3 separate regions of the Homo sapiens genome follow, and regions 2 and 3 are each linked to region 1. The links come from fine-mapping of genetic effects on gene expression. A gene starts in region 1. Each other region holds a variant in brackets. All regions are shown on one strand. Distances are between the middles of the regions.

What was found.
Region 2: its variant is fine-mapped to the expression of MANEA in lymphoblastoid cells (GTEx, PIP above 0.99).
Region 3: its variant is fine-mapped to the expression of MANEA in tibial artery (GTEx, PIP above 0.99).

The regions. Positions count from the first base shown.
Region 1 is chr6:95,573,442-95,584,557 of GRCh38, forward strand. MANEA (mannosidase endo-alpha) reads left to right here and starts at 4,094. Exons shown (of 5, transcript NM_024641.4): 1 at 4,094-4,197. MANEA-DT (MANEA divergent transcript) reads right to left here and starts at 4,010. Exons shown (of 3, transcript NR_104136.1): 1 at 3,652-4,010. RefSeq lists silencers at 3,834-3,913, 3,964-4,053, 4,334-4,393, 10,999-11,116 and enhancers at 4,190-5,130, 4,594-4,693.
Region 2 is chr6:95,810,028-95,821,143 of GRCh38, forward strand. No RefSeq gene overlaps it. Among named protein-coding and RNA genes, the nearest start is that of FUT9, 200 kb to the right of the region's middle. The variant TA/T (reference allele first, on the strand shown) is at 5,383.
Region 3 is chr6:95,488,466-95,499,581 of GRCh38, forward strand. No RefSeq gene overlaps it. Among named protein-coding and RNA genes, the nearest start is that of MANEA-DT, 83 kb to the right of the region's middle. The variant G/A (reference allele first, on the strand shown) is at 5,470.

The sequences.
Region 1 (11,116 bases):
GTAGACAACACAGAGTTGAGAAGTCACTCATAGTGGTGTCAGCAGCTTTGAGATCAGTGCAGCCCTGAAAGCAGCAGTGCCCTAATCTGTACTGTTATATGAGGCTGTGTTCCCAATTTCCTAGCCCCTCTTGTTTCCTATCCATTGCCATTACCTAATGTACTAGCCTTCATCTTCATGCTAAATTCTGTAACTTTTTACATAGTCTATTTGTTTTCAGGTTTGCCAGATTCAATTTCTATTGCTTACAAAATATATCTCTGATTAATGTAAGTGGAGAGGATATGGACAGAAATTGATTTCTCATCTTCAGTGACAGGAGTAATGAGCAAAGGTATAAATGGCATATGGCTAGGAAATACTAATGAAACTTCTAGGACAGGGAAAAATAGACATGAAATAATCAGGAGACAAACAATAGGGCCCATTGAAATAGAGGCAAGAAAAAGATGGTTGAAGGTGTAACTGCTTAGGTCTGGGAAATACAAAGAAGACTCTTCAATGCTGATGCCAAAAGATAAGATAAATGGCTGCCGCTTTTCTAGTAGCAAGATAGGATTAACCTGAAGGATCTTGTGGGGTGGGGACTATGATTTTAATAAATGCTAATTAGGATAAACCAAAGGCTACTATTAGTTTATTGTGTTAGAATCTTTCCATACAAGAATTTGACAAAAAAGAAAAAAAAATGGGGGATTTTTTTTTTCTCCATTCTTCCTTCTTTGGATCATTTTTGTCTTTGGACTCTCAGTGACTGATTACCCCTGATGCAACACATTTAAAATGTCTATTTACTACACAAATGAATTTATATGCAGCTCTTTTTCTTTCCAAGAAACCATCTATTAGATAAATGGCATATTCTTCTGGTGCTGTATTTTTAATTAAAAAATACATAAATATGGGCTCACATTAAAAAAGAAAACAGCACTACAGAGAGTAAAAAAGAAAATTCTCCTTCATTCCCCTTCTGTTACATCCCTATAGGTAACAATGCATATATCCTTTCAGATATTTTTATATATCATACATGCACATATATATTTAAAATTTATATTAATATAATGTGAATTTCTCTTGTAAGTATTAACATACTAATCACTTGCTCATTTATCTTGGAGACCTTTCCCATCAGTGCTTATTAATTTACTAAATTCTACATTGTTTACATTCAGGAAATTATTGAACTAATTAAATCTATATGTATATATGAGAGATAAAAAAATTGGATGTGGCAGTTATTATGGCCATCCCATATTTGAAAACAAAATCAAGATTCAGAATGTAATAACATTCTATATGTGATAATTACAACAAAACATTGCTGACTTTCCAGTGATGTCAAGTAAAAAAAAAAAATTCTACATAAAAACACTGTGAAAAAAAGTGATGTGAAAGAAAAAAAGAATATTAACAACATTATTTCTATCATTGCCATCTCAACATTCCCTGACAATAGCAGGGGATAGGTAGAGCAGTCAGAGTTACAAGATGAGGCACTAGCAGCAATTCTAATCCAGTTTATAAACACCATTGTGCAATGAATAGAGTGTGATGCAATGAGAATCTACTTGCCTAATTTATTTACACTGGCAGTCATAAAGTACCCAGTTTTTAAGCAAGTGAGCATGCATTAACATATTTATAAAATAAAATCCTCTCCCTCTCATTTGACATCAGAAAATGTATTAATCATTCCCATAAATATATTAGAATAGGAAACAATGATTATCTCAATAGGTGCAGAAAAAGCATTTAATCAATTAAACTGTCACTCATGGTTAAAAAAAAGCAAACAACAATACATTATGAACTGGAAACAGAACACTTAATAATCTTGATAAAGTATTTACCAAAAACCCACAGCAAACATTGTTATCATTATAAAATGTTAGCAGTATTGCAGTAAAGTGAGGAATGGGACAAGAATGCCATTATTACTTCCATTAAACATTGCACTGGATGCTCTGTTAATAAATAAAAGAAAAAACTGAATAATAAGTGGTTTGAAAAGAGAGAAAGAAGGAAACCATTATTCTTATTTACAAATGATATGATTACCTATATAGGTCATCCAAAGATGTAACAGGGAAATAAAGCAAGCAATCAAAAAAATTCAGCGAAGCTTCTGGAGATAGTACCAATATATTGAAATTGATGCTCTTTTAATACAATGTTACTAAACAATTAGAAAATAGAGTTTAAAGAGAGAGATCTCTAATTTTAGTAATAAAACTAGGAGGCAATATAATGAAAGATACTCAATAAATTACAAAGCATAGTAGCACATAAAGTACCTGAATAAAATAAATATACCATGTTCATAGATAAGAAGACATTTCACTAAATCTCTAAATGCAATTCTCAAGTTGAATAAAATGCCCAATTGAAATCCAATTTTTTAAATGGATCTTGGCTGGCTCATCCTAAAATTTCAATGAAAGAGTAAAGAGCCAAGTATAGTTAAGGCAATTTTAGACAAGAATCATTAGGAGGAGGGGTTTGCAAAATGTTTTAATACATAGAGTTGAGTGCATGGGTGTTCATTATATTATTATTTGTCCTTTCTGTGTTTAAAGTTGCTACAATTAAACTTTTAAACTTGTAGAAGAAAGAATAGTTTCTGATGTTATGTTGGGAAGAATCTTGTAAGCAAGAAAGCAAAAAGCACAAAATTAAAATGTAAAATATTATTAAATTCAAAAAGCTGTATACTGAAGCATAAAGCTTTTGGCAATCAAGAAACATCATAAAAACTGGAAAGACAGTCCATAAACTAAGAGAAGACATTTGCAACACATGTAACTTACAAGAGAGAATTAAACTAGAAAAAATAAATATTATCTACAAAATAATTTTCAAAAGCAAGCAATTTAATAAAAAATGAGATAAAATTAAGAACAGGCTTTAGCAAAAGGGAAAATGCAAATTAAAAGAGCAATCAGATGCTCTTATCAGCAAAAACTTAAAAAGTCTAACAATAGCATAAGGGTAACGATGTGCCAGTCTAGTTTATGGGAAATGGACTTGTATACAGACGAATCTCAAAACCTCTCAAAACCTAAATTAGTGAAAAAAGGGGAAAAATGAAGAATGATTCACATATGAAATATAAAACTAGGAAAATAGTATTTTTAGGGAATCGTACATATGTAACTATTTTCAGAAATACAACGGAATGAGTAATATAAAATTCAGCATAATGGTGAACGGAAGGAAGGAGATGTTTTTAGAGAGTCTTCTTTCTAGAAGACTCCAAAAATACTGGCATTTTTTTTTTCTTAAGCTCTGTAGTGGGTACCTGGGCATTTTTCATTCTTCTTTAAGATATGCACATGAGATATACTCATATGTATATTTCCCAATTAAAATTGGTGTACAAAATCTTTTTAAGGAGAGCCCTTATGAAACTGTTCACATCAGCAAGTTCTAGCTTGAATAAGGACTTCCTGTTACTATGTAACCAAACAAAAGATAGCATTTTCTTGTTTTCTGAAGCTAATGTAAGATGGAAACCTTCAGTTGTAATCCTATTTCAAAAGTTCTTGCTCTTCACATCTGACTTATCCTCAATTATTTCTAGTACTTCAGTACAGATGTGATTTTATAGAATACATTCGCAAATTAAAAACGCCATCTCCATCTGCCTACCTTGGGCTTCCAAGTAAAGTTCTATTTTTACAAAAATCAAAACAGTTCCTCAACTTTAAAAGTTTGAAAACCAGTGTACTTGTAAAGCACTTGATGCAAGCAACTTCTGAATGTTTCACATAAAAACAAACAAAAATGTGTCCTCTGTAATACAGTTAGAGCCTCCCAACAGAGCCTCAGAAGACCGTTTCTAAAGGCAGTGAGTTCTACTTGCAGAAATAGGGCGGGAGTGCAGTCTGACTCCAATCCACACGTCCTTCCCCTCTGACAGAACGCCCCAAAACGCAGTCCTCTCTTTCTTCCGCGCCGCTCCCGCCCTAGTCCTCTTAGACCCGCGACCGGAGGCTCCGGAAGACCCCGAGCCCCGCCCGCTCCGTGACCCCGCCCCCACCCGTCCCGCCCCTGAAAGCGCCCGGAACGCTGTGCGCGCGCCTTCGGGGAGGAGGGGCTGTCTGGGCTCGGGGCGCGGCGGCAGTCAGCTCTATGTTCGCGGTCTTAACCTCTCCTCTGGCCGAGTCCTTGCAAGAAGTGAATTACCCGACCCTGGTGAGTAGCTGCAGGAGTCAGACCTCTTGGAGGCGGCGGCGCCAGCAGCGGCGGCAGGCACGAGGTCCACCGCGGGCGCCTGCGCGCTCGCCCGCCAGCCAATCTGGTGGCCGCTTTCCTCCGGGCGCCCTTTGACCCGGCGCCCCTCTGGCAGGCGCTGGTGGCGCCCAGCGGCGAGCCTGTAGCCCCCTCGATTAACCTAGGCTGTCACTCTTAGGCCTGTTTTAGTCTGCGTTAGTTTTACTGCCTTTTACACTGCTTTATCCCCACCTCACTGGCCTCGTCGCCGCCTCCTCTTTGAAACGGTACCTCCTGTCGCCTCGGATTTTCCTTGTCTCCCCGACAAGGTGGAAATTTCGGGTCGGATGGAAGCCTTTTTCAGCACCTTCTCCTTGTGCCCCCAGACTGCCTCTGGGCCTTGAGCCGACCGGGAGAGTAGAAGGATCGAGGCCTGCTGGGCTCTGGGTGCAACGGAAAGGTAGCTGTCGCCTCTGGGCATCGGGAGGAGACCGCCCGATGGCGAGGCCGCTAGAGATGGTTTTTCAGTTCACCTGTTAACGTGTTTGGCACTGTCATCTTAGACTCTTAGCCTTTGCTAAGTCGGGATGCAACAGTGCTGGATTAGTGTTTTTGTTGTTCCTTTTTCCAAAGAAGCAACTTGAAGTACAGGCAGGTATAACTGTTTGGTTTTGTTGTTGTAAGACCCTACGGATAAGTGTTAGGAGAAAATGTGGAAGTGCTATAAAACAACAACAAGGGGGGGATAATGTTGATTAAGAACTTGAAAATAAGAAAAATGGGACTGGAATAGGCTGTTCACGTTAAAGTATTGAGGCAGTAGTTTGAAACAAAAATATAAAGTAAAACCTAGATATTGGTGATACTGTATCACGTTGTTTGCAAATCACTTTCATGACAATACATCTATTTCAGGTGTATCACACCTGAAAAAAACATGAGTGCTGTGAATTTGTGGATTTTCAGGCTCAATGCAGAAAAACACCCCCCAAAACAAAAAATCACAACAATGAAAACACCATTTCCAGAGCTGTTGCTGTTATTCGTGTGACGAATAGTGAATGTATGATCATAAAATAGAATAAGCTGTCTTTAGATGAAGTTTGGGCACAGTTTATGGAGTAGGTAACAGTTAATCATTGTTTATTAGGTACATAATCCTTAATTGAAAACATAACCATATAGCAGCAGCTTTCATCTTGTGTCACAAAAATAACTGGTGTATCCTCTAAATTTGATTTGTCTAATACCTTAAAGGAAGGCAGAATAGCATGGACAAGAACTTGAGTTCTTGAGCCAGACTCGATCTGCTCCTTGCTAGGTGATTAACCTTAGATTGGTTTCTTGGCCATTTGCTGGCCCAGAGATTTTTGAAAAAGTTACCAACTGCTCAGCTTCATCATTTGTAAAATGAGGTTAAAAAAAATTCTGCGGCCTGGCGCGGTGCCTCACGCCTGTAATCCCAGCACTTTGGGAGGCCGAAGTGGGTGGATCATGAGGTCAAGAGATCGAGACCATCCTGGCCAACCAACATGGTGAAACCCTGTCTCTACTAAAAATACAAAAATTAGCTGGGCGTCGTAGCGTGCGCCTGTAGTCCCAGCTACTCTGGAGGCTGAGGCAGGAGAATCGCTTGAACCCGGGAGGTGGAGGTTGTAGTGAGCCAAGATGGCGCCACTGCACTTCAGCATGGCAACAGAGTGAGACTCCATCTCAAAAACAAAACAAAACAAAACAAAAAACAGAAACTAAACCTCACTGAATTTCTGTTAACCAGAGGGTACAAGTGTTTACAATAAAACTGACCTGGGCAAGGATTGATTTTGAAACTGATTTTGAAAGTTCCAGATGTGTCTTCTAGTATTGAGTTATATTTATCTCCGGTGGCTTCATACAAAATAAAATTAGAAGAAAACAATATATTTTTTAAAAAAAGCACCAGAAGTCTGTGTGATTTAATTTAGTTAATTGAAAGGGAAGTCTTTTTGGCTTTTGTGAGTTACATGATAAAAGCAAATAATTTTTGAAGTACTAATTCATACCACCCTGCTTCTGAATCTCTTGGGGTCTCTTAGCTAGCTGGATATGTCCAATAATTTTTTATTAGACATCACTAAGCTTCAAGTCAGCATTTCAAAGGATTAAAAGCACAAAACTCAAAAAATAGAAGCTACAGGTTCAAAAGAACCTATTGTGTATGAGTAATGTAAACAGTCTTTTGAGGAGAAAACAGATTTTCAGTAGCCAATACTTTGAGTAGGTCCCTGCCTTGGAAAGATATATCTGCAATAAACTTGTAATATTTTCTCTATGGTGACTTATAATACTTTTCTTTTATTGAAGCTAAATTAGTTCCTCCACCCCTTTCCTGCAAGATCAGACATTTTAGGCATCTCAAGGGTCATTGTGGTTTTACAGCGTTGAAGATGATTTTTTTTATTAAATTGGATTTTTAAAATTATTGGATCTTTACGATTCTTTATAATATGTTCAGTATACACCGTAAACTTATCAAGTGTGTATACGGTCAGTAGTCTATATATACACACACACACAGATATACATATATATATATACACACACACTGCCTGAATACCAATGAAACAGCAAAGAGCCAGAAATTAACTTTTTTAAAGCTGAACACTTAATGAACACTATGTGAAAGATATGTTATGCTCTACTAGAATGTGAAGATAAAGACTCCATTTCTGAAACTTAAGGAGCAATCTAGTAGGTGATATAAAGATAAATGCACAGCATGATATAATACATAAGGAATGACAATTTGGCCGGGCACGGTGGCTCACACCTGTAATCCCAGCACTTTGGGAGGCAGAGGCGGGTGGATCACGAGGTCAGGAGATCGAGACCATCCTGGCTAACACGGTGAAACCCCATCTCTACTAAAAATACAAAAAATTAGCCAGGCGTGGTGGCAGGCACCTGTAGTCCCAGCTACTCGGGAGGCTGAAGCAGGAGAATGGCATGAACCCTGGAGGCGGAGCTTGCAGTGAGCGGAGATAGTGCCACTGCACTCCAGCCTGGGCAACAGAGTGAGACGCCGTCTCAAAAAAAAAAAAAAAAAAGAAATGACAATTTAAAAAGTAAATACTGTTAACAATAAAATATATGAGGAATAAGTACTTTTCACTGTGGAATTAGGAGAGGTATCAAGAAGAGGCAGCATTTCAACTTTGACTTGAAGGTGACTGGTATTTCAATAGTTGGTCATATAGAGAATAGGCATTTAGAATAAAATGTGTTATATTTTAATTGCTTGTCGGACACCCATCTTTAATCATCATCATAAACAATTGCTCATTTATTTAGTCTTATACTAAGCCACATGATTTTGAGAGTTTTACAATATTAACTAATTTCATCCTCACAAAAATCCTATGAGTGAAGTAATAACTCATTCTATGGGTGAGGAAAGGAACTCAGAAAGATCAGGTCAGTTTTGTAGGTCAGATAACTAAAAAATGGCACAGCTGGAATTTGAGCTCAAGCATTTGAACTACAGAGCTCATATTTTAAATCTCAATGCCCATCTGTGTTTATTTAGGTTGAGATGACTTAATTGAGACATGGAGGTTGAGCCAGAGCCAGCAGATCATCTCTTAAAATTGAGCTTGTGTGTCATCTATAATGATGTGATAAACACACATTTTAATTGAATGAATGAAGTAATGTAAAATGAGAAGACAGAGGATCAGCTTAAGAAATTACATTCATAGGCAAGAGAGAGAGAAAAAAAAACAGCTTCCATAAATGGACATTTTGTGCTTTGTATTCATGAGTGTATCCAGAAAATGAACCTAAGAAATTTTTTAGAGTTTCCAATATTTCTTCACTTTTCATTTATTTATAAATTCATTAGTATTTACTGTTTGATTAAAACATTACTGTTTCAAATTGTCTTGCATGATTCACAGAATAGTTTTATCAGTAGGCAAAACAGATACCCTCTTTTTTAAGAAAAGGCTAAGTGATTTACCCAGGATCACACAACTAAGTGTGACTGATTTGAATTTACATCTTAAGATTTATTATATATCTTGATCTTTCATGAATCTCGCCATTCAGCTGAAGTCAACGTTTCAAAAATGAATGCCTTACTAATTTATAAATCTGTTAGTTATTTCTCCTTTCTCTGTAACTCTTCCAACATTCATTACCATTGTTTTTTTCCTTATAGAATACCTATCCAAATGTTTTCCTTCTGAAGTATTATGTTCTACTTTTAGAAAACAGAGTAAGAAAATATCACTGTTGTCTCATCCAGACATAACTATTTTACATGTTTAAGTATATTTCCTTCTATGTGTATCTTTAATACAGATATGATATTATATATCATAGTAGTTGATATATTACATCCAAAATATTATTTTTGCTTCATGTCTCATCAAAATTTTCCCTTTCTTCAATCAAAGGGAAATGTTTGTTGTGATGTCAATGATTTGAAAATTTCAGGACAACAAATTACAGTGGCATGCCAAAATGGTTGTATCATCTTTTTTTTTTTTTTTTTTTTTTTTTTTTGAGACGGAGTCTTGCTCTGTCGCCGAGGCTGGAGTGCAGTGGCGCGATCTCTGCTCACTACAAGCTCTGCCTCCCAGGTTCACACCATTCTCCTGCCTCAGCCTCCCGAGTAGCTGGGACTACAGGTGCCCACCACCATGCCTGGCTAATTTTTTGTATTTTTAGTAGAGATGGAGTTTCACCGTGTTAGGCAGGATGGTCTTGATCTCCTGACCTCGTGATCTGCCTGCCTCAGCCTCCCAAAGTGCTGGGATTACAGGCGTGAGCCACCACGCCCAGCCCATCCTTTTATACCTGTTAGTGCAACAGGACTGCCACAGCTCACATGTAGAAATTTCACTTCACAGAGTCATGTAGTGCAGGGTTTGAAAGACTTTGTGACTTAGCCCTTTCCAGAAATAAGCAGGTATGTTAACAGCTCACATTCTTCTATTTACTGCTGGGATAAATAGCACAAACAATTTCTGTTTACTTTTCCTGCATATTCACCATATGGTAATATTTTACCATATTTGCTTACCATTATACACAAACACACATACCCTTACTTATTATACGTTGCATTGTATGTAAGCCATACATTTTATATATAGTGTATGTATGTGGTGTACATATATGTATGAATATGTGTGTATTTATGTATATGTGTGTATCCTCTCTTTAATATATTGTCTCATGGTTCCTCGTGATTAGATCTGGATTAATTTTTAACAAGAGTACCACAGCAGTGATTCTGTGTTTTTCTCAGTACGGGTTCGCTGAAGACTAATGGCCATACTTATTTATCCAAATTAACTGATAAAGTCAATTTTGATCACTAGTTTAAATTGGTGTTTTGGTAGGTTTTCCACTGTTATTATTTCCCCATTTGTAATTAATTAGATATCTTCTGGAGGAACATTTTGTCAGTATGTATATAGTTATTAAAACAAAATCTCCAGACCTGTCTACCTATTCCTTTACTAAAAGTTCATTTACATAGCTTTTTATTAGAGAGGGAGGGAACTGATGTGATGGAATGCAGGGATGGGTAAGAGTTAGGATACCAGGTAAAGTGTCAGAAAAGATTTAGTAATTAATATTGTTTCCCAAGAGTTTTATAAATTTAAATACATTTAATTATGTATATATAATCATACATATTTATATCTAAATATATATGACATGTATCCATATATAACATAAGATGCACAATATGTAAATACACATATATGTGCATGTATGTGTACATATGCACATACACACGTTTATGTATGTACCTGCATGCCTTGATATATTTACAGTATGCATATCGTATATACAGTATACATATATACATATATGACGTATATATGTACACACACCATATTTACTTAAAGTTTGAAACAGACAAAATACAGTTAACTTTAGTTAGATATGCTTGTGTGCGGTGGGAAAACTATAAAGAAAGAAGAGGTGAAATGGTAAACACAAAATTCAAGCAGTTGCCCTTAGGCAGGGAGAAGGGCAGGACTGGTGATTCAGAGGGAGCACGAGAAGTGGAAAGGAGCTTTTAAGCTGGCAGATTTCTTTTTGAATGTTTACTTTATATGTTTTAAACTAGACATGTCTTTTATACTATTCTTTTATGTTATTCTTTATATTATTCACTATTCACAATTAAACAAGATTAACCTTAAAAATAATTCTTATGATTTTAGCTGTTAAAGAAATATACTTGGTTAGTTTAGTGTTTCTTAAATACATGTAGAATAGTGTTGTGGGAAGTCAGGGACCCCGAACGGAGGGACTGACTGGAGCTGCAGCAGAGGAACATAAATTGTGAAGATTTCATGGACATTTATCACTTCCCTAAGAATACTCTTATAATTTCTTATGCCTGTCTTACTTTAATCTCTTAATCCTCTTATCTTCGTAAACTGAGGATGTACGTCACCTCAGGACCACTATAATTGTGTTAACTGTACAAATTGATTGTAAAACGTGTGTTTGAACAATATGAAATCAGTGCACCTTGAAAAAGAACAGAGTAACAGCGATTTTTAAGACAGCGATAAAGTCTGACTGCCTGTGGGGTCGGGCAAAAAGAGCCATATTTTTCTTCTTGCAGAGAGCCTATAAATGGACGTGCAAGTAGGAGAGGTATCACTAAATTCTTTTCCTAGCAAGGAACATTAATATTAAGACCCTAGGAAAAGAATTGCATTCCTCGGGGGAGGTCTATAAGCGGCCGCTCTGGGAGTGTCTGTCCTATGCGGTTGAGATAAGGACTGAGATACGCCCTGGTCTCCTCCAGTACCCCACCCTGGTGAATTTGAGGTCAGACTGGTTCTCTGCTCTCGAACCCTGTTTTCTGTTGTTTAAGATGTTTATCAAG
Region 2 (11,116 bases), 240 kb after region 1:
CACTGTAGAGATTTTTCACCTCCCTGGTTAGCTATATACCTGGGTATTTTTTGTGGCAATTGTTGTATGTCTGATTTGGCTCTCAACTTGGATGTTGTTGGTATATAGGAATGCTACTAAGTTTTGTACATTGATTCTGTATTCTGAAATTTTGCTGAGGTTGTTAATCAGATCAAGGAGCTTTTGGGTGGGCAGAGACTAAGGCTCCTACCCAGTTCATTCTATGAGGTCAGCATCAACCTGATGCCAAAACCTAGCAAAGACACAACAACAACAAAAAGAAAATTCAGGCCAATATCCATGATGAATATAGATGCAAAAATCCTTGATGAAATATTAGCAAACTGAATCTAGCAGAACATCACAACACTAATCCACCATGATCGTGCAGGTTTTATCCCTGGGATGCAAGTTTGGTTCAACATATGCCAATCAATAAATATGATTCATTACATAAACAGAACTACCAAACAAAAACCATATGATTATCTCAATAGATGCAGAAAAGGCTTTTGATCAAATTCAACATCGCTTCATGTTAAAAATACTCAATAAACTAGGCACTGAAGACACATACTTCAAAACAGTAAGAGCTATCTATTGCAAACTCACAGTGAACAGCATACTGAATGGGCAAAATCTGGACACATTCCCCTTGAAATCTAGAAGGAGACAAGGATGCCCTCCTTCACCACCCCCATTCAGAATAGTACTGGAAGTCCTGGCCAGAGCAATCAGGCAGAAGAAAGAAAGAAAATGCATCCAAATAGAAAGAGAAAATGTCAAACTATCTGTGTTTGCAGATGACACGATTCTGAGACTTGGAATTTTGTAGACTGATTTCGCCCATTTTATTCTTCTATTTAAAAATTGCTTTAGCTATTTTAGACCCTTTGTCTTTTCATGTAAACTTTTTAATAACATTTCTATATCTACACAAAATATTGCTGGAATTTTTATAACAATTACATTAATATACAGGAAAATTACATCTTTCCTATGTGGAGTCTTCCAATCCATGGACATGGCATTTTTCTTGATTTATTAAGAATTTCTTTAATGTCTTCTTCAGTGTTGTGCAGTTTAACAAACAAGTCACGTATATTTTGTTAGATTTACATGTAAGTATTTCATTTTTTGAGTGATTATAAATGACATTGCATTTCTAATTTAGATGTGTATGTGTTTGTTCATTGAGCTTACACAGAAATACAATTGTGTTTTTTATGTTAAACTTGTATCCTGTGACTTTATTGTACTCACTTTATGAATTTTTCATAGTTTCCTTGGGATTTTCTATGTAAATTTATGTCATCTGTAAATAGAGACTATTTTATTTCTTCCTTTCTGATCTATATCCCATTTATTTCCTTTTTGTGTGTTAATTTGTTGTCTAGAATTTCTGGTACCACATTGGGTAAGAATGTTATAGGCAGACACCTGTCTAGTTCCCAATCTTAGGAGAAAAGGCATTCGGTCTCTCATTAATAGGTATGAGGTTAGCTGAAGGTTTTTTTGTAGATGTTATTCAACAAGCTGAATAAATTCCACATTATTCTGGGAGATTATACCATAAAAGATGTTGAATTTTGTCAAATAACTTTTTTGCATCAATGTATATGATCATTTTATTCTGATTTTTCTTCTTAACCTATTATATAATGGATTATATTGATTGATTTTAAAATCAGTCTTGCATCTCTGAAATAAAGCTCATTTGGCCATGGTTCATAATTTTCTAACATATTGCAGAATTCTATTTTCTAACATTTTATGAAGAATTTCTATGTCCATATTCATGAAGGATATTAGTCTGTAATTTTCTTTTTCATATTGCCTTTCCCTGGTTTGATATCTAAGTAATATCAACTTCATCAAATGTGTTGGGAAAAGTTTTCTTCTTTGTTTTCTGAAAGAGATTTATATTAATTATTCTTTAACCTTTGGTGGAATTCTTCAGTGAAACCATCTGGTCCTGGAAACCTTCTTTTTTTAAAAGTCTTAAAGTTATAAATTCAATATCCCTTCCTTTTAGGACTCCAATGACACAGAAGTTGAATCTTTTGCTACAATTCCTCACATCCCTGAACTTTATTACGTTCAATTTCTCGTTATTGTCCATATTGGGTAATTTCTATTGTTCTATATTCAAATTCACAAATTCCTTTCTTTTTTATTTTCATTCTTCTTTTGAGCCCATCTAGAGGGTTTTCAATTTAGTTACTACACTTTTAAATTTTGAGTTTCCATTTTGTTCTTTATGTCTTCTCCCCTTGCTTTCCATATTTTGTTTCAAACGAGTTCACATTTGCTCATTGAAGCATTTTTATGATCACTGCTTTTAAAGTCCTTGCCAGATATTTTTAACATCTGCATCATCTAGCTAATGGCATTTGTGGATTGTTTTTTCTCCTTGAAGTTAAGATTTTTCAGGTTCTTGGTATGGGAAGTGATTTTTAATAGAAATTTATATGTTTTTGGTATTATATTATGAGGCTATGTATTTTATTTAAATCTATTTTAACAGGCCTCGTCTGCCACCATTCCCATGGGAGTAACAGTACTGCCAGTGACAGTGGAAATCCAGGTTACTCACTCACTATCTGTTTACGCCCAAGGAGTTTCTTTCTTTTTTTTTCTTTTTTTTTTTGAGACAGAGTCTCACTCTGTTGCTCAGGCTGGAGTGCAGTGGCGCGATCTCGGCTCTGCCTCCCGGGTTCACACCATTCTTCTGCCTCAGCCTCCTGAGTAGCTGGGACTACAGGCACCCGCCACCACACCTGGCTAATTTTTTGTATTTTTAGTAGAGATGGGGTTTCACCGTGTTAGCCAGGATGGTCTTGATCTCCTGACCTCATGATCCACCCACCTCGGCCTCCCAAAGTGCTGGGATTACAGGCGTGAGCCACTGCGCCAGGCCCAAGGAGTTTCTTACTACTGCTTGGCAGAGATGATAGTTGAAGCTCTCCAGTAGACATCTGCTGACACGATCATGACTGGGAAAGCAAGGGTGTCTGGTTTCTGCTACTCTTAGCCATGTGGCCTCTACTGACATGTTAGGGGTAGATGTCTGAAAGGGTGAGAGGCTGTTCTAGTTAATTATTAGTGGTGATAAAAGTTCTGACTCTCCATTATATCTCCTCTGATACTACCCTAGGAGGAGGAGGTGGGTACTTCTTTATCCTCAATGGGAGTGGAAGTCCAGACTCTCCCATGTGGTCTCCACTGATACTCCAGGAGACCAGGGAAGGGCTTCTTTACTGCCCTGTTGGGATAAAGCTCTGGGCTTTCCATTTAGCTTTCTCTGACACCACACTGGCCAGGTGGAAGTGGGATAAAGAGGTGCCTCATTTCACTATAGATAGAGTGGACATGTAGATTCCAGATTCAGCCATTGTCAGTGGGGGGTGGGAGTGGGGTCATGGTTTTTTCTGTGATATATTGCTTTCATAGGGTGACTATTGTGTAAAAATTTTCTGTATTGTTAGGCTGCCCCTTTCCTGGTCCTTAGGTTAGAGAGAGTGAGCTTTTCTTGGGGTTTATTTTGTTTGTGTTTGTTGTTGTTTCTGGGTTGCTGGCTTCTGCAGAATCAAATCTGGCATAGCAAAAGCAAAACCCAGGGAAGGCACTACTATGTCATTCCTAATTCCAAGATCCCTAGAGTATCTTCCTTCTCTCCATATTTCACAGCCCTCTTAAGTCTGTAATATGTATAAAGTCCAGGGATTTTAGCTGTACTTAGTGAGAAAGGCAGGAAAGAAGATATCTATTCCAAGTTTTTATAATTAGAAATCTCTATGTTAGCTTTCTAAACAAGTTTTTACATTGTGACATAGGATAACACCCCTAAAAATTATTTTTTAATATTCTTATTTTATTGCAAAAGATCTGATTTCATAGTTGTTTCATAAAACCATCATATTTTATTATGCATTGAAATTATTTTCTTTCAGATGTTAGAAATCATTATTAGGTGCTTAGACTATTTCCTAGTCTATATATTTATCAGAGGGACTCCAATTGAGATTAATTAAGTAGAGTTTTCTAATTCTAAGACTGCCTTATTATAAAGAACAACAAATATGTCTCTAGAAGACAAAATTGATAGTTTATGAACTAAAAGCTATACATCATAGACTAGATTTATTTGTCTTAATCTTCAAGTACTTAAGTGTTTTTTTAAAAATAAGGACAGTCAGTTGGGTTATCTAGAAGTAGACTATATGCAAGTGCCTTCTAAAAATATGTTTACATTATATATATAGCATCTTAACCTAGGCCATTTTTATGAATTCTCCTGATAATTGGCTTTATAGAATCTTACTGGAGATATATTTTCTTTTCTCAGCACTTCTGAGACTATCTAAAATTGTTTCAAGCACTGTTGTGATGATGCAATATTAAGAAATATAATTAACAAAATATAGATTACTTGCATATATTAAACATTAAATGTGTAGAGTGCATATAAATATTTAGGATTCCTGAGTGACCTTAGTCTTCAAAGTGCACTCACCTCATCTGCAACCATTGACATTTATTCCTTTTTCTAGGCCAGAAGAGGGAAATTGGTGGGCACATGTGTTGTTTTTTTCAGTTTCTTAGCTCTACCCAGAGTCTATGGATATGCAAAGTCTCAGAAACAGCTGGAAAAACCATCTCAGCTCTACCTGTGGTTTGAAAACTATTTATCCCTTAGGATGGATCTTCATCCTTCTGTGCATTACTTCAGCTGTGATCACAACAGCCCACTCCCACCCTCACCTTCCCGAGAGGTAGGAGTTACTATGTAGTGAAGCCACACACACTGCCAGACTTCTCCAGGTCCTTGACAGGGAGGAGCACGCATTTACTTTATTGGGGGTTGGTATTGGTTTTCTTCTTCTGGGATGGCCAAAAAAATCACTTTCCATTTTGATCCATCTTTTCTCCATGTATAGTTGTCTAAATACCTACCACTTCACCTACTCTGTTCACAATATTTTTCATCCATTCTTATCATCATATTCAGTTGTATTACATATTTTATATGTAAATGAATTAAACAAGTACTATAAAGTCCTTAGCACAATCACTGGTAGATAGAAAGTACTTAGTAAAGATCACATATCATTATAATTTTTCTAAATTATTATTTTATAATAATACGTAATAAAAATGTTCCATATTAGTTAAAGATATAACTATAATTTATTAACTATGAAATAAAACAGTATTTTAATAAAACAGAAGCTAAATAACAGTGGCAGGAAAAATGCATTTAGCCCTAAGACCCCATGTTTAATTTCTCCTGCAGTCACAATATTTTAATTGAGTGCTTATTTATAAATCTTTTTATAATCATCTCCTTTCTCTCATTAATAAATATGTATGCATGATTAT[TA/T]GACTATGAAGATACAGCTGTGAGGACAGTTGGACATTTATAAGTCTGATTCCCTGTCTACCTCCTCCACTGCTTTCTGAAAAGAGACCAAGTGTGGTTCATTGTGTTCTCCAGGGCCAAGTGAGTGTGCAGAGTTCACCTAACATGTGTTGACTTTTCCCCCAAACCAGTGACCCAGTGGCATGGAAGTTGAACTGTGTTCTCTTTGCCTGAGAACATGTGGAAATAGTGTGATAGCAGCACTCTGCCAAGGGAGGGATCACTGAAGGTGAACCAAAGAATCTTTATGAATGGAACTGTTTATTTAACTGAAACAAAACTGAAGTATTGGACTCCAGCTATACTACGCAAACACCAATTTTTCCCTTCTTTGTGAATAATAACAGACAATACTAAAATACAAGAGCTTTATATAATAAAAAGTAAATGTCACATGTAAATAGTTTCACTGATAGAGTCACAAGCAAAAGAAGACAGAACTGTTAAACATTACAATGTACTTTCATAACCAAGAAGTGAGCACACTTGATCTAATAGATACGATTCCATAAACATTGCCTTAATCAACTATGGATTTCAGTGTTTGTCTTGCCTGTGGTCAAGACATTGAAAATATGCTTATCATTTTGACTTCGAATATTCATAAAAATTCGATGCCCAATCATTTTTTGATGTTTTAATTTAGATAAAATTATGATACTATAACAATATCTGAAGAACAACTCCAAATTGGGTTAAAAGTGTGAATAAAGAGGATTATAATGTCAATGTTACTCTAAATCCATAATTACACATTTCATTGAATTCGCCATTTCTTATATATTTCTGTGTCTTCTCTCTCCACAAGATTTTACCTATAAGTTCATAGTTGACAGAGGAACAACACAATCATATCTAATTTCTCCATTAGTTAACCAACAAAAAAGTGAAGATTAAGTGTCCTGTACTATATTACATATTGAAGGTACAAATTATAAAAGAACTCAAGATGCTACGATCCTATTTTCAAATAGCTTCCAATCTTATTAGGGTAAACAAAGCATAGAGGAGTACAAAATTTACTGGGACAATGTGTAATCAAATGCCAGACCTTGGGGAACCATGTGAATTTGTGACCATTCCATAAAAGAAAATCATAGCATAATGTATGTAGCTATGACACAGCTCTTGATGACCCTTTATGGTGCTACACATTTGATGTCTTTATCATTCCTAAATTCACCCAATCTCTTTTCCGTATTTTATCATCTGTGAGATCCTCTTGCCCTAGGGCCCCATTACCTTCTGCTAAAGATGAAGAAGCATAAAAGAGAAGAGCAGAAGACCCTCAAGATCAGGATATGTGTTTGGACAGTGACCTATTAAAAACATGCCCTGTACTTATTGTGTGTCAGGCCCTGCACAAGGCATGTTACTTATATTATCTCATTAAATCCTTAACATTGCCATGTGAGATAGAGTGCTATTATTATGATCTTTTAATAGATGAGTGAACTGGAGTTAATAAAGTTGTTATAATTTGTTTCAGGTCACACACAGTGGATACCTAAGATGTTGTGACACTTGGGCCTATGCTCAGATTCTTCACAGAAAAAGCCCCACTGAAATTGCTAAGGTTGGGGTAGAGGAGAAAATTGAAACTAAAAGGGAAAATCTAGAGGCCTGTAGTGCAAATGTCTCAATACGCAAAAAGCCAGAGGTGATTTGGGTTCCAATTTCTGGCAGAGAAACTCATTTTATAAATGAAAGTTATTTCCTCCAGAAAATGTAAAGCATGTTGTCATAATAACCCATTGTGGGTTGTAGATCACCAGCATCAACTAATGCAAACTAGAGAACAAAATCAAGAAATGTATCTTTCCTTTCTAAAACTTTGTTTTCCTTTTCCATGTAGTCCTTTTATCCATAATGTTAATTCTTTGCTATGGGTTATGGTTAGCAAATCAGTATAGATCTATATGTTACAGTTCTGGGAACACTACTTTTGATTGAGGAGTAAGGTAGAGAAAATTGGTACATTGATTTTAAACTTATAACAACTTGGTGTTTTCTAAATTTTATTGATGTACAATTGGTATTTGGATTCCTTAATAGATTTGTTGACTACATGGATCTTTAGAAATACTAAATCAATTAATAATTTCGTGGTGGTGCACAGCTTTGGAAATGCAGGAGAAGCTCCACCTGTTTTAGTGACAGATAATCCAGGCTGCTGCTACAGATTAAAACCATCTGGCCAATAAGGGAGGGACACTTTTTCAACCTCAGTTTTTCTGGACTGCTAGGTAGACTAATAAGGAAGAAAAGAGAGAAGGTTCAAATAAACACAATTAGAAATGATAAGGAAGATATCACCACTGACCCCCCCGCCAAGAAATACAAACAGCTATCAGATAATACTATAAATACCTCTATGCACATAAGCTAGAAAATTATCAGAGAATATTATAAACACTTCTATACACATAAACTAGAAAATCTAAATGAATAAATTCCTGGACACATACATCCTCCCAAGACTAAACCAGGAAGAAATTACATCCCTGAATAGACCAATAATGAGTTCTGAAATTGAAGCAGTAATAAAGAGCCTACCAACTAAAAAAAAGCCTAGGACCAGACAGATTCACAGCTGATTCTACCAGAGGTACAAAGAAGAGCTGGTACCATTCCAACTGAAACTATTCCAAAAAATTGAAAAGGTGGGGATCCTCTCTAGCTCATTCTATGAGGCCAGCATCATTCTGATACCAAAACCTGGCAGAGATACAACAAATAAAGAAAACTACAGGCCAATATCCTTGATGAACATCGCTGCAAAAATCAGCAAAATACTGGCAAACTGAATTCAGCAGCACATCAAAAAGCTTATTCACTTCGATCAAGTAGGCTTCATCCCAGGGATGCAAGGTTGGTTCAACATATGCAAATCAATAGAAGTGATTCATCACGTAGACAGAACTAAAGACAGAAACCACATGATTATCTCAATAGATGCAGAAAAGGCCTTCAATAAAATTCAACGTCCCTTAAAATTCTCAATAAATTAAGTATTGAAGGAACACACTTCAAAACAATAAGAGCCATATACAACAAACACACAGCCAGTATCGTACTGAATGGGAAAAAAGCTGTAAGCATTCCACTTGAAAATGAGCACAAGACAAGGATGCTCTCTCTCACCACTCCTATTCAACATAGTATTGGAATCTCTGGCCAGGGCAATGAGGCAAGCAAAAGAAATGAAGCGTATTCAGATAGGAAGAGAGGAAGTCAAACTATCTTTGCTTGCAGATGACGTGCTCCTATATTTAGAAAATCCCAATGTCTCAGCCCAAAAGTTTCTCAAGCTGATAAGCAACTTCAGCAAAGTCTCAGTATGCAAAATCAATGTGCATAAATCACAAGCATTCCTATACACCAACAACAGACAAGCAGAGACCTAATCATGAATGAACTCCAATTCACAACTAAGGAGCTTCTGCACAGCAAAAGAACTATCAACAGAGTAAAAAGACTACCTACAGAAAAGGAGAAAACTTTTGCCATCTATCCCTCTAACAAAGGTATAATATGTAGCATCTACAAGGAACTTAAACAAATTTAAAGGAAACAACAACCACATTAAAAAGTGGGCAAAGGACATGACCAAACCGTCCTCAAAAGAAGACATACATGCAGCCAACAAACAAACATATGAAAAAAAGCTCAAACTCACTGATCATTACAGAAATGCAAATCACAACCACAATGAGATATCATCTCATGCCAGTCAGAACTGTTATTAAAAAGTCAAAAAATAGACCAGCAATCCTGAGAGGACCCACAGACCCTCTGAAGGAAGCAGACTGCTCCTGCAGTACACAGGAGACCCCCCTCCATCTCCTGCAAAACTCTGAGTGCCTCAACTGTGGAAGTGGGAAAGGGTGACCCTCCTCTCCCAAATACACACCCTAATTGGAGAAGCTGAAGGCCTGTTTGCAGGAGAAGTTTCCAACTTTACCTGGAGCTGAGTCAATTTGGAAAGCTGAGTGAAATACAGGGGTAGAGGTAGAAACAGAAAGGCCCTGGGAGCTTTTTGGGTTCCCTAGCAGGCCATTCCTGCCTGGCACCACAAGGATCCATCCGGAGAGGAGCAGGGGGTAAAACTAAACATGGAGAAACAAATATGTAGCTGAACTTGTTAACAATTTGAACGGGGTGATAAGTCTCCTGGTGAGAACTCGGTGGGAGGGTGCTAATCTGGTGTGCAGACTTCACAGGCAGAGAAAGTACTAAGTGCTTTTCTTTCACAGATAGGAGGTGGATAGTCTGGGGCAGGTTTTCAAACCCATATTGCTCTCCACCTGGAAATGGTCTGAGAGCTGTTGGGGGAGGCACGGTGGGAATGAGACTGGCCCTTTGGTTTGCATGGGAGCTGGGTGAGGCCTGTGACTGCTGGCTCTGCCCCATTTTCCTGACAACCTGCCTGACTCAGCAGAGGCAGCCATAATCCTCCTAGGTACACAACTCCAGTGACCTGGGAATCTCACCCCCATCCCCCACAGCAGCCACAGCCAGACCTGCCCAAGGAGAGTCTGAGCTCAGACACACCTAGCCCTGCCTCATTGATAGTCTTTCCCTACCCACCCTGGTAGCAGAAGACAAAGGGTATATAATCTTGGGAGTTCTAGGGCCCTGCCAACCACCAATTCCTCCTTCTAATACCACAGCTGATGCTCTTTGGAAAGCGCCACCTCCTGGCAGGAGGGCAACGAGCACAAAAAGAACATTAGACCACAAAACCAGCACAAACAGAACATTAAACCACTAAAGCTAAGAACCCTGAAAGAGTCCATTGCACCCCTCATCACCTCCACTGGAACAGGCAATGAGATTTATAGACAGTTCACATCACAAGACTCTGTGCAGACAACCCCCAGTACCAGCCTGGAGCCTGGTACGATCGCTGGACTGCTGGACCGCTAGACCCAGAAGACAGACAACAATTACTGCAGTGTGGCTCACAGGAAGCCACATCCATAGGAAAAGGGGGAGAGTACTACATCAAGGGAACACCCCGTGGGACAAAAGAATATGAACAACAGCCTTCAGCACTAGACCTTCCCTCTGACAGAGCGTACCCAAATGAGAAGGAACAAGAAAACCAACCCTGGTAATATGACAAAACAAGACTTATCATCACCCACCCAAAATTACACTATTACACTAGTTCTCCAGCAATGGATCCAAACCAAGAAGAAATCCCTGATTTACCTGAAAAAGAATTCTGGAGGTTAGTTATTAAGCTAAATAGGAAGGGACCAGAGAAAGGCGAAGCCTTTTTGTTTCAGGAAACAAAGATTTCCTTGTTCAAGGAAATCTAAACTATTATAAAAAAGTGAAGGGAGAAATATTCAAGGTAATAGATAGCTTAAAGAAAAAAACAATCAAAAATTCAGGAAACTTTGGACACACTCTTAGAAATGCAAAATGCTCTGGAAAGTCTCAGCAATAGAATTGAGTAAGAAGAAAGAAATTCAGAGCTCGAAGACAAGGTCTTCGAATTAACTCAATCCAACAAAGACAAAGAAAAAAGAATAAGGAAATATGAACAAAGCCTCCAAGAAGTCTGGGATTATGGTAAATAAACAAACCTAAGAATGATTGGCATTCCTGAGGAAGAAGAGAATTCTAAAAGCTTGGAAAATATATTTGGGGGAATAATCGAGGAAAACTTCCCCAGCCTTGCTA
Region 3 (11,116 bases), 85 kb before region 1:
AGAACGGTAAAAATACCTAATTGATGTGGGAAATTCACTTTTAGGAAAACATTGTTAACGTGCAGTGGAATATGTCAAAGACAACATCCCAGTTATCACTGTAAAAATAGGTCTCTGTGTGTTATATACACATTTTCTGCTATCTAAAATTCGATAGATTATCTACATAGTAACCACATAGCTGAAGGACAGTACATACCATCTGAACATGTATTTTCTTTGGGAAACAGTTTTCTCTTAACTTCAACTGCTTTATGATATCCCATGTGGGTTAGTGCTCATATGAATCTACTTACGAGGAAAACCACGTGCTAGAGACACCAAACCTAAAAGAGATGCTGAAACTTGAAGATGTCATCCCATCACTACTTAAAGCAAAAATATAGAGTGATGGTTTTATCAATATTCAGATGAGAACTAACTTAGTAATCAATGCTTTTGCCCTGGATTTTGGAACAGTGTTAGGAATTATAAAATGGCAAACCATGATTAGTCACCCCAAACATATAGAATTGGCTTACTACAGACTGAAAGCTTGTAAAGGGATACTCTTTAGAGGGAAAAAAAAATATGCTTTAAAGATCCTGAAACAGACTTCAAGAGATGTGGCACAACCTGTTTCCAGGAAATAGAATCATCATATGAGTTATCTTTGACACTGCAAAATGAAATGAGGAGATTAAAAATCTCATTCAACTAGTTCAAGTTCTCTCTCTTTTCCTGCCCCTCCACTAGTGTTCATATGGATCTCCCTGCCTGGAATTCCCTCCCTGACCTGTCAGCTGTTTCTTTTTGGATGATTATTACTTATTCTTACTTATTATTGATCACTGAAATCTCAACTTGGATATCACTTCTTCCAGGAAGCCAAATCTAGGTTAGGAGAGTGCTATGTGTGCACCCAGCACCCTGAACTTCCTGTACCACAGTATTTGTCACGTTTCATTAACCTGCCTCTCTACCTGTCCGTATCCTCACGACATAAAAATGCTTTGAAGTAAGAGATCTTCTATATAATGTCACAATCATATCACCAGAGCCATTCCTGGGTCAGTGCTCAATAAATATTTGTTTAAAATAAAAGTAGAGAAAGAAGGGAAAAGGGAGTAAGAATGAAGGTAGAAATGAACAAGCAGTGCCTCATTTATTTAAATAATGGCAAAAATGCTGGAAATCCCCAGAACAAGAAGCCACATGATCCCAGACTCAGCTGTGGCACAAAGTGAGTGAAGTTATATAAGTGGGACCAAAAGGGCTGATTTTGTTTGCTACAGCTTTTTCAAGGCTGAAGATGAAAATATCCTTAAAACAATTTAATCCTTCTGAAATAATGATGGAGGAAAACAACTGTTTGTAAAAGCAATCAGTGATAATTAATAAACAAATTGGCAGAGGTTTTTTTCTTTTTCCTCTGAAAAAGCTTTCTTCCAATGAGTGCTCACGAAGGAACACAGAAAGCAGTCCATTGTATTTTTTAAATGTGTGATTACACCACCTTTGATGTGTATTTATATATATATATACACATACACATACATACACATATGTATGTATAGATATCCCATATGTGGTATTTGTGATATCACATATATCTACCACATATGTGGTAGATATATATCACACACACATATACACACACACACACTCACACAGTTAACATATACATGAAACTCTTTAGACTGAATCTCATTTATCTCATTTGTCGTATAATCTATAATTCCTTAATTATTTTTGGATAAAATGAACTGAAGCTCATTGTACATTTCTCTTATCGGGGGAAATGTGAAATCTTGCTTTAGGATCTAGATTGAGCTTTTCATTTGGGAAGAATCAAATAAATAGATTAAACATTTTTCTTAAAATGTGTTCTATTTTAACAGCACAAGTGAATGTAATAATTGTATTAAAAATTCCTTATAATCACTCTGTAAATTTAAATTATAGTGTACTCCTTTTATTATCTCTTTAAGGAACTGAGCTAAAGAAGTAACAAACTATTCTTTTTCTCTTCGAAAAGAATTTTCTCGTATCTTTTTTTGATATGAATGCAATTGTGAAATGAACTGTGTAGATTCTTCAAATATAATTATGTATAATATTGAAAGTGTCAATGGGAAAAAGGAATAACATCAGAAATAATGAATATGAGAGAAATCTGAATGATGATACATATTTCTTGGAAGCAGGTGACCCAACTCAGAAAAATAACTGTCTTATGAACAGCTGAATATATGTGACTATCCATTTTCCATGTCATTAGATAGCCAATCAACTGAAGTACACAACGAATTTAACCTTTTATTTACCACAAATAATCTGTTTCACTCACATAGTTAAATTGAAATTGTTTGGGTATCATTCATTCATTAGAATCTAGTGCTATTTTGCTCCTCAATATCTATTATCTGTCCTTCTTTCTAACCCAGGAGGTTCATCTGTATGAATCACACAGTCATGGTTTCTCACTCATCTGGCTTCCAGTTGAGTCCAATCAGCGGAGAAACATAGCAGTTTGGAGGAAGAAAGAAAGAGGAAGAGCAGAGAGTAAGGTCAGAATATTACCTGGCTTCTTCCTTCCCTTTCAAAATGAGGTCAAACTAGCTAATCCTTTCAATAAACATCACCCAAATGCCATTGTATTCCTCTGGGTTCCAATAACCATGCTATCTCTGGGTTCCAATAACCATGCTATCTCTTCCTCCTTTAAGTCTAAGGGTGGTACCAGGTCAGCTGCTGCCGACTCCAGGTTATTTTAGTAGCCTTTATAGTCTCCCTTTTGTCTATGTCACTAAACACATCAAGAATTATTCTATTTGCAGTGATCCATATGTTTTCTGCTGAGACAAGATTTATAAAGAAAACAGATTATCTCTGTCAATTATCTTGATATGCATTCTTTTTAAAATCAGAATGTTTACATTATTGACTTAACACTTCCTTTTATTTAGTTATTTTATAAACTCAGACTTATGTATTATACATTTCTCATTAATGTATATTTTTGACTGGAGGAAAAAAGAAGAAGGAATATGGCCATAAAACATGTAGAATCTTCTTTGCTCTTGCACACATGTGGAAGATTCTCCTCTTCTTTACACTTTGCTGGTATTTTTAAAACTGTAAATTAACTCATTTGAATCTATTTTATTTCATTTATCCTGACTTGAAAACTCCTATTAGGTCACCCAGCCTCTATTTCCTCCCATTCCAGAATAACCCAAATCATGTTCAGTAACATATCCTATTTTTGTTTCCAAAGAAGAATCCTGATTGGCCTATGTAGTCTACCTATGCATTTCATTCCTTTGTTCAGGTGGAGCAAGGTTCTTTGGGGCTCAAAAGCCTATAAAATGTGGGGGATCTCTTTTAAAAAACAATACAAACTGTGAATAGGTACAACTAAATATTTATTTAAAATAAAATTAATAATAAATTAAAAATTTTAAAGCTGACTAAAGGTACTACAAATATAACAGAATTTAGAAAAATAATATAACTTTAATGAACTACAAGAAGTTCATTTCTACAGTACATTTTCCCTACTTTCTTTTTTTTTTTATTGTTGGTTTTTAGACAGGGTCACTGTTTCCCAGGCTGGAGTTCGGTGGTACAATCATATCTCTCTGCAGCCTCAACACCTTGGGTGCAAGCAATCCTCCCACCTGAGCCTCTTGAGTAGCTGGGACTATACACATACACTGTTATGCCTGGCTAATTTTGAAAAAATTTTGTAGAGACAGGGTCTCTCTGTGTGTCCCAGGTTTGTGTCAAACTCCTGGGCTCAAGTGATACTCCTGCCTCAGCTCCCTAAAGTGCTGGGATTACAGGCATGAGCCACCATGCCTGGCCCATTTTCCCTCCTTTTCAAAATGCATAGCCCTTGATCACCACTTCTTACAGTTTTATAGATTCAATGCCTATAGCAGAATAAAAAAAATACTTCAGCTTTTTATCTAGTAAAGTTAAATTCAACTTTAGTTTTTATTATTGCTAATAACTTGTTTTTACTTCTGCTACTGGCCTGTGCCCTACAAATAGAAGAATTCTGATAAATTTTGTTTCATGTAATTCCCAGTTAAAAGGGAAAAATGTATAATTCAATAATACTTGTATATTCTATGGTATGACATGTATTTTAAATAAGAAAAATCTTCCATTTTAGTAAGTTATAGATAAGAACTGAATCCTCAGCTCACAATTTTACTCATCTGATAGTGGAAGAGTATTCCACAGGCTAGTTCCTTATGTTTGTATTTTTAATCTTTTTTTTCCATCATTAATGACAACTTTCCAGTGCCAAACATGTTAAAATATGTTAATATCATAATTCAATCTATGCAAAATGGGCAGTAAGTCAGAAGAAGTCTAGCAAAAACTTCACTGTATCAACTAAACAGGAAGTTGACTGCAAACCACATAAATATGCCCCATTAACCCCAAACTAAGAGAACCCCAAACAAAATTCTCCTTAGCAAGAGCTCCCAAAATATTCAAAGCTGCTTGAACATCATCTGCAATGAAGAATAGTGTGAGAAAAGGTAAGTCAGAGTTCAGAGACACCGAGGTCTTAACTATTTGAAGTTTAAAATGACTCATTTTGCAATTTTCATCAAAAAGAAATAAAATGTGAACATGTGAGCACACTGTTAAGGAACCCTCTCCAGGTCTTAGTAAAAGTTCATGCAAGTTCTGGCCTAAAGCTTCATTAGCTTTACACTAATGTATTTACCTCTGTCTCTGGTGATAGTTTCTGGCTCAAGTTTGGGCATGTGACCTAAGCTAGCCCAATTAGTGTGAAGAGAACTACTATTTTACACTTGTTTAGGAGAGGTTTCTCTACCTTCCTCACAGTAAATGTAAACAGAACATCTCTTGCAAGCATGGGAAAATGGGGCAGGGTGAAGTTAATGTTGACTGAGTGGATATTAAAGAACCCAGATTTGGGGGATTTTCAAAATAAGTTCATATCGCCCTTGGAGTTTACCTTTGGATTTATATTTTATATTTAAAAATACCATTTAAGCCAATTTGCATTAGATTTTTCAGTTACAGTGGAAATATCCTAATGTGTACCTACAAATTATTTGGTTTATTTCTGAAAGTCTTGTTGTTTAAGTATCATTTTGCATTTTCATTCAGATATAACTCTCAAATATAAAATTCTGCTAATTAAATATCATTATAAACTGTGTTGAATTGCACAACTATCACAGATGACAGAACTTTTTTCTCAAATAATAAAATATTTTTAAAACTTTTGATATTTCTCAGGTATGATAATAATCAATTGTTTCAAAGATATTTTCCAAGTAAGTTCAAGTTGGTGTATTAGAACTTACATCGATACTCTGTTCAGCATAAACGATCCTCTAAAAGAGATATTTTCCTAAATTACTGAAAGGAAAATATAGGCTTCAGAATATTTTTAAAATTCCATTTTTGAGGTTTAGAAATAAGGCTTACAGCTCA[G/A]ACAAGCATTACAATCAAGCTACTTTCTCATTGGTGAGACACATTTTAAAAGTTAACTTGCATATCTCAACTACACAAATTTCAAGGCATAACATTGAAAAAAGAAAAAACTTCTATTGCTAGTAAAAAAAAAAAATCACAATTCCCTTATGATTCAAATGCAAAAAAAAAATGAGAATATGAGAGGATAAGAGGATGTTCAATGATCCCTTGTTTACTTCTTTTAAAAAATTATGAACCATTTTAAGTCTAAACAAATAGAATGATATAAGAAACATTCATGTTTCTCCAGTTCAATTTGGTTAATTATTAACATTTTTGCATCTTAAATTTTGATTATTTAAAATAAAAATAAAACACCATTACAGATTTGTATTAAATTCCCTTTGCTAGTGTTCCCAATCCCTTTCCTTCATTTCCTACTTCGAAATGACAACCATCCTAAATTTTGCATATATTAACCCAAAGCAATTTTTAATAGTTTTACTGTACAGGTATGACCATACACACACCAACACACACATGCAGATAATGTATTAAATATAGGACATATATTTGATATGTATATATTATATATAATTGTATACATGTATATAAATCACATAACCTACCATACTGTACATCTTTCAGGAATTTCCTTTTTTCACCTAACATTTTGCTTACTTTTTAATCCATGTTTATAAACTACATATGACAATCTAGGTCATTAATTTTTACTGCTATGTAGTTTTGTAATATGTGATAATTATACAATATATTTTGCCATTTTTGATGTATTTTGGGTTTTTTTCCTCACTTTTCCCTATTATAAACAAAATTACAATAAACATCCTTGAGCATATATCCTTGTATGTATTCCCTGTACGAGATTCCCTGGAGTATATTCCTAGGATAAAGTAGAAGTGCCGAGTCTTAAATATGTGCAGCTAAAACAGTATTCAATATAGCAAATTATTTTCCAAGGTAGCTAAATCAATTCATTATCTAACACTAGTAAGCAAATTCCATTTTTAACAAGAAAAATTATTGAAATTAAGGAAATATACAAATTAGGAATTGAGAATATACATCAGAATAAACTCAAGAAAGTGACAAAAGGAATAATACAGAAAAGAGCAGACCTTAATTACAAAGAAAGCAAAAAAATAATGCACGAATCTTTTGTTGTCAGGTTTTATTTGTCTATTAGCTCAAGTTAACGAGCACTATTCAATGAATGTTAACGAGCATTACTAATAGCATCAATTAAATATTCTATAGCATTATTTTTCCTTGCTTTGTCTATTGAATATTCAAAGAGGTATTTAAAGTATTGTATTCCGATTGTGATTATGGTTATCCAATGTTCCTCTGTAATATCATTCATTTTTAGATTATTCTGTCAAGATAACATAAGAAAAAGACTAAGCAGCAGATTCTGTATCTGTGGAAATCAAACAAGGAATATATTAGATTCATGAGATTATTTGAAACACATGGGTCCCATAGGCAAAATAAGATTTGATTTTATTTATGAATATCTAAGAGTCTTGTTGTATGTGAATGCATTAATCAAATTATTGTTTACACCAACATACATTTGCTGCAGTTTTTCTTCACAGATGTATCACAATTTATTTAGCCAAGTCTTTATTTTAATGATTCTTAGACTGTCTGTAATACGTCACAATTTTAACTACTACCAAAATAAACATTTTCCTATGGCTAAATAGTTATATAAAAACTGTTTGTTTTACCGAGGCAGGCGGATCACGAGGTCAGGAGATCGAGACCATCCTGGCTAACACGGTGAAACCCCATCTCTACTAATACAAAAAAAAAAAATTAGCTGGGCCTGGTGGCAGGCGCCTGTAGTCCCAGCTACTAGGGAAGCTGAGGCAGGAGAATGGCGTGAACCCGGGAAGCGGAGCTTGCAGTGAGCCAAGGTCGCACCAATGGACTCCAGCCTGGGTGACAGAGCGAGACTCCGTCTCAAAAAAAAAAAAAAAAAAAAAAAAGTTTGTTTTAAATTATTAAAAGTTAAATTATAGTATATAATGATAAAATTATAAGATGATTAACACACATTGTCCTGTTGTCCCTATATTTTATACTTGTGACTGCAAATTTTAAAATTAAATTAATTTTCCTACATAGCTTTATTACAATGAATAATAATTTTTAAATCTTTGAATATTTAAGAAGTAAAAATCTGTTTTTCACAGTTGTACCATTGAATACCACTGTTATACATGTACTTCTTTTTAATTATTTTTATCAGTAAGTTTTTCTCTTTATTAAAGTTTGTTTATAGTCTATTATATTTTATTTTAATGGGATGCAATTATTTCTCAGGGATTTAATGTGCTTTTTAATTATGATATCAACTCATAAAATTGTTTCTCTTTTTTTATTTGGCCTTTAATTTTTTTATGTATGATTTGTTGTACATCATTCATCATATACAATTTGCTTTATAGCCTTCATTTTTATTGTACTTAAATCTCTCAGTCTTTTGTGGTTTCCTCAACATCCCTCTGACATTAAAAAAACATACACTAAGCCTCTAGTTTATGTCAATAACTGTTCTAGGTATAGGTAATAATTTATTGGAAAAGACAAACAAAGCCTTGCCTTCTTGAAGCTAACATTTTATTCATTGCATTTCACTGATATAATAATCATCATTTCATGTGCATAACAATGAAAAATACAAATAACTTACAATTTTTATAGCTTTTGCTTGTTTTATTTTTAATTGAGAATTTTTTATGTAATGTAATATTACCTTTTTATAAATATGCAAATAATTATTATATAATTCTTAATTTCTGCATGATTTAAAATGCCATATTACTGAGAGGTGTCAATGTGCTAGCAGCCCTCACTGCCTCTCAGCACCTCCTCGGCCTCAGCATCCACTCTGGCCATGCTTCAGGAGCCCTTCAGCCCGCCGCTGCACTGTGGGATCCCCTCTCTGGGCTGGCCAAGGCCAGAGCCTGCTCCCACTGCTTGCAGGGAGGTGTGGAGGGAGAGGCACGGGCAGGAACCGGGGCTGCACCCAGTGCTCATGGACCAGCGCAAGTTCCAGGTGGGCACGGGATCAGCAGGCCTCACACTCAGAGTGGCCAGCTGGCGCCACCAGCCCCGGGCAATGAGGGGCTTAGCACCCGGGCCAGCAGCTGCGGAGGGTGCGCTGGGTTCCCCAGCAGTGCTGGCCCACCTGTGCCGCACTCGAATTCTCGCCGGGCCTTAGCTGTCTCCTTGAGGGGCAGGGCTCAGGACCTGCATCCCGCCATGCCCAAGCCCCTGCCCCGCAGTGGGGCTCCTGCGCATCCCGAGCCTCCCCAGCGGGCACTGCCCCTTGCTCCATGGCACCTGGTCCCATCGACCGCCCAAGGGCTGAGGAATGCGGGCACATGGTGCAGGACTGGCGGGCAGCTCCACCCATGGCCCCGGCGCGGGATCCACTAGGCAAAGCCAGCTGAGCTCCTGAGTCAGTTGGGGACTTGGAGAACTTTTATGTGTAGCTAAAGGTTTGTAAATGCACCAATCAGCACTTCTTGTCTAGCTCAAGGATTGTAAATGCAGCAATCAGCACTCTGTGTCTAGCTTGAGGTTTGTGGATGCACCAATCAGCACTCTGTATCTAGCTAATCTGGTGGGGACTTGGAGAACCTTTATGTCTAGCTAAAGGATTGTAAATACACCAATCACCACTCTGTGTCTAGCTCAAGGTTTGTAAACACACCAATCAGCACCCTGTATCTAGCTCAAGGTTTATAAACACACCAATCAGCATCCTGTGTCTAGCTCAAGGTTTGTAAATGCACCAATCAGTGCTCTGTGTCTAGTTAATCTGGTGAGGACTTGGAGAACTTTTATGTCTAGCTAGAGGATTGTAAACGCACCAATCAGCACTCGGTGTCTAGCTCATAGATTGTAAACGCACCAATCAGCACCCTGTCAAAATGGACCAATCAGCTCTCCGTAAAATGGACCAATCAGCTCTCTGTAAAATGGACCAATCAGCAGGATGTGGGTGGGGCTAGATAAGAGAATAAAAGGCTGCCCGAGCCAGCAGTGGCAATCCACTTAGATCCCCTTGCACAGTGTGGAAGCTTCATTTTTTCACCCTTTGCAATAAATCCTGCTGCTGCTGACTCTTTGGGTCCGCACTGCCTTTACGAGCTGTAACACTCACTGCGAAGGTCTGCAGCTTCACTCCTGAGGCCAGCGAGACCACAAACCCACCAGGAGGAATGAACAACTCCGGACGGAAAAAACAAACAACTCCAGACGCGCCACCTTAAGAGCTGTAACACTCACCACGAAGGTCTGCAGCTTCACTCCTGAAGCCAGCGAGACCACGAACCCACCAGAAGGAAGAAACTCAGAACACGTGTGAACATCAGAAGGAACAAACTCCAGATACACCATCTTTAAGAACTGCAACACTCACCATGAGGGTCCACGGCTTCACTCTTGAAGTCAGTAAGACCAAGAACCCACCAGTTTCGGACACATTACCATACAATAACTCTTAGTTATCCAAAAGTCTATTGTTATTATTTTGTTTAACTTCCAATTTGATTTATTGATCTCTTATTAGTTATTTCTTGTTTGTTTTAGGATCCATCTGTTAAAAGATTTACACTGTACAGTGTATTCCATTGTTCATATAATTATAATAATTTTCCACATACCATAATTTAGTCCATTTATTGAATAATCAGAATAAAGTAACCATTATAAATTTTAAAACGTGGAAAGTGTTTGATTATAAATAATAGCATGGTCTTTTACATGTTCCCCTAAAAGATGAAAGTTACTCTAGCTGTTTCTTGGTAACTTGCTTTAAAAATATTTGCATGTTGCCTAGCACCCAGTTAGCAATAAGCCTCAGATAAAACTTTCATTTAATGATTTATTATATTTTCCACTTAACTCTTCAAGCATCACGCTCCTATGGCCTTTGTAAACAGTAGACATTGCTCTGATCATGAGCTTTAAATGACTTCACATTAGCTACAGAAAAAGGCTTAATATGCTCTCAAAGCTGTTGGTGTCTTCCACAATTTTTTCTTATTGTATTTCTCTAGGCTCATCTCTTATGTTGTCTAACAAAAGTCCTCTATTCTAGCTAGTGTGATCCATGTTGATTATTCAGAGTTACATAAATTCTCCATGCCTATGTCTACCTTCTTTGATGTCTTCTACACTTTAGTCTTGCCTTCTCATTTAAAACAAAGCCTCAACTATTTCTCAATCATTATAAATCCTTATAAATATACTGCAATAATGGAATGATATTGTAACGTAAGTGTTTCAATTCTGGAGAGTTTAGCATATTTTGCTTTTTATCCATCCTTATCATCTACATTTTAAACTTCTTATCCTTCCTCTCATATAACCATCTTCTCAATTCTTTTTCTATGCTAAAATATAAAATATACTTAATCTGATAATGAACTAATTGGCAATAATTAGAAAATATTTATACATTCTTGGCTCATATGTGTCTTCAAACCTTCAATATAATAACAAATACTTTTGGCTTGATCTTCAAATTATATGCAGATTCTGTTTAAGATGTCTGATTTTCAGCTTCTGTTTAAAACATAGAAAGTTGGAAGAATTGTTATTCTTATTAGAAAATAAGAAAAAA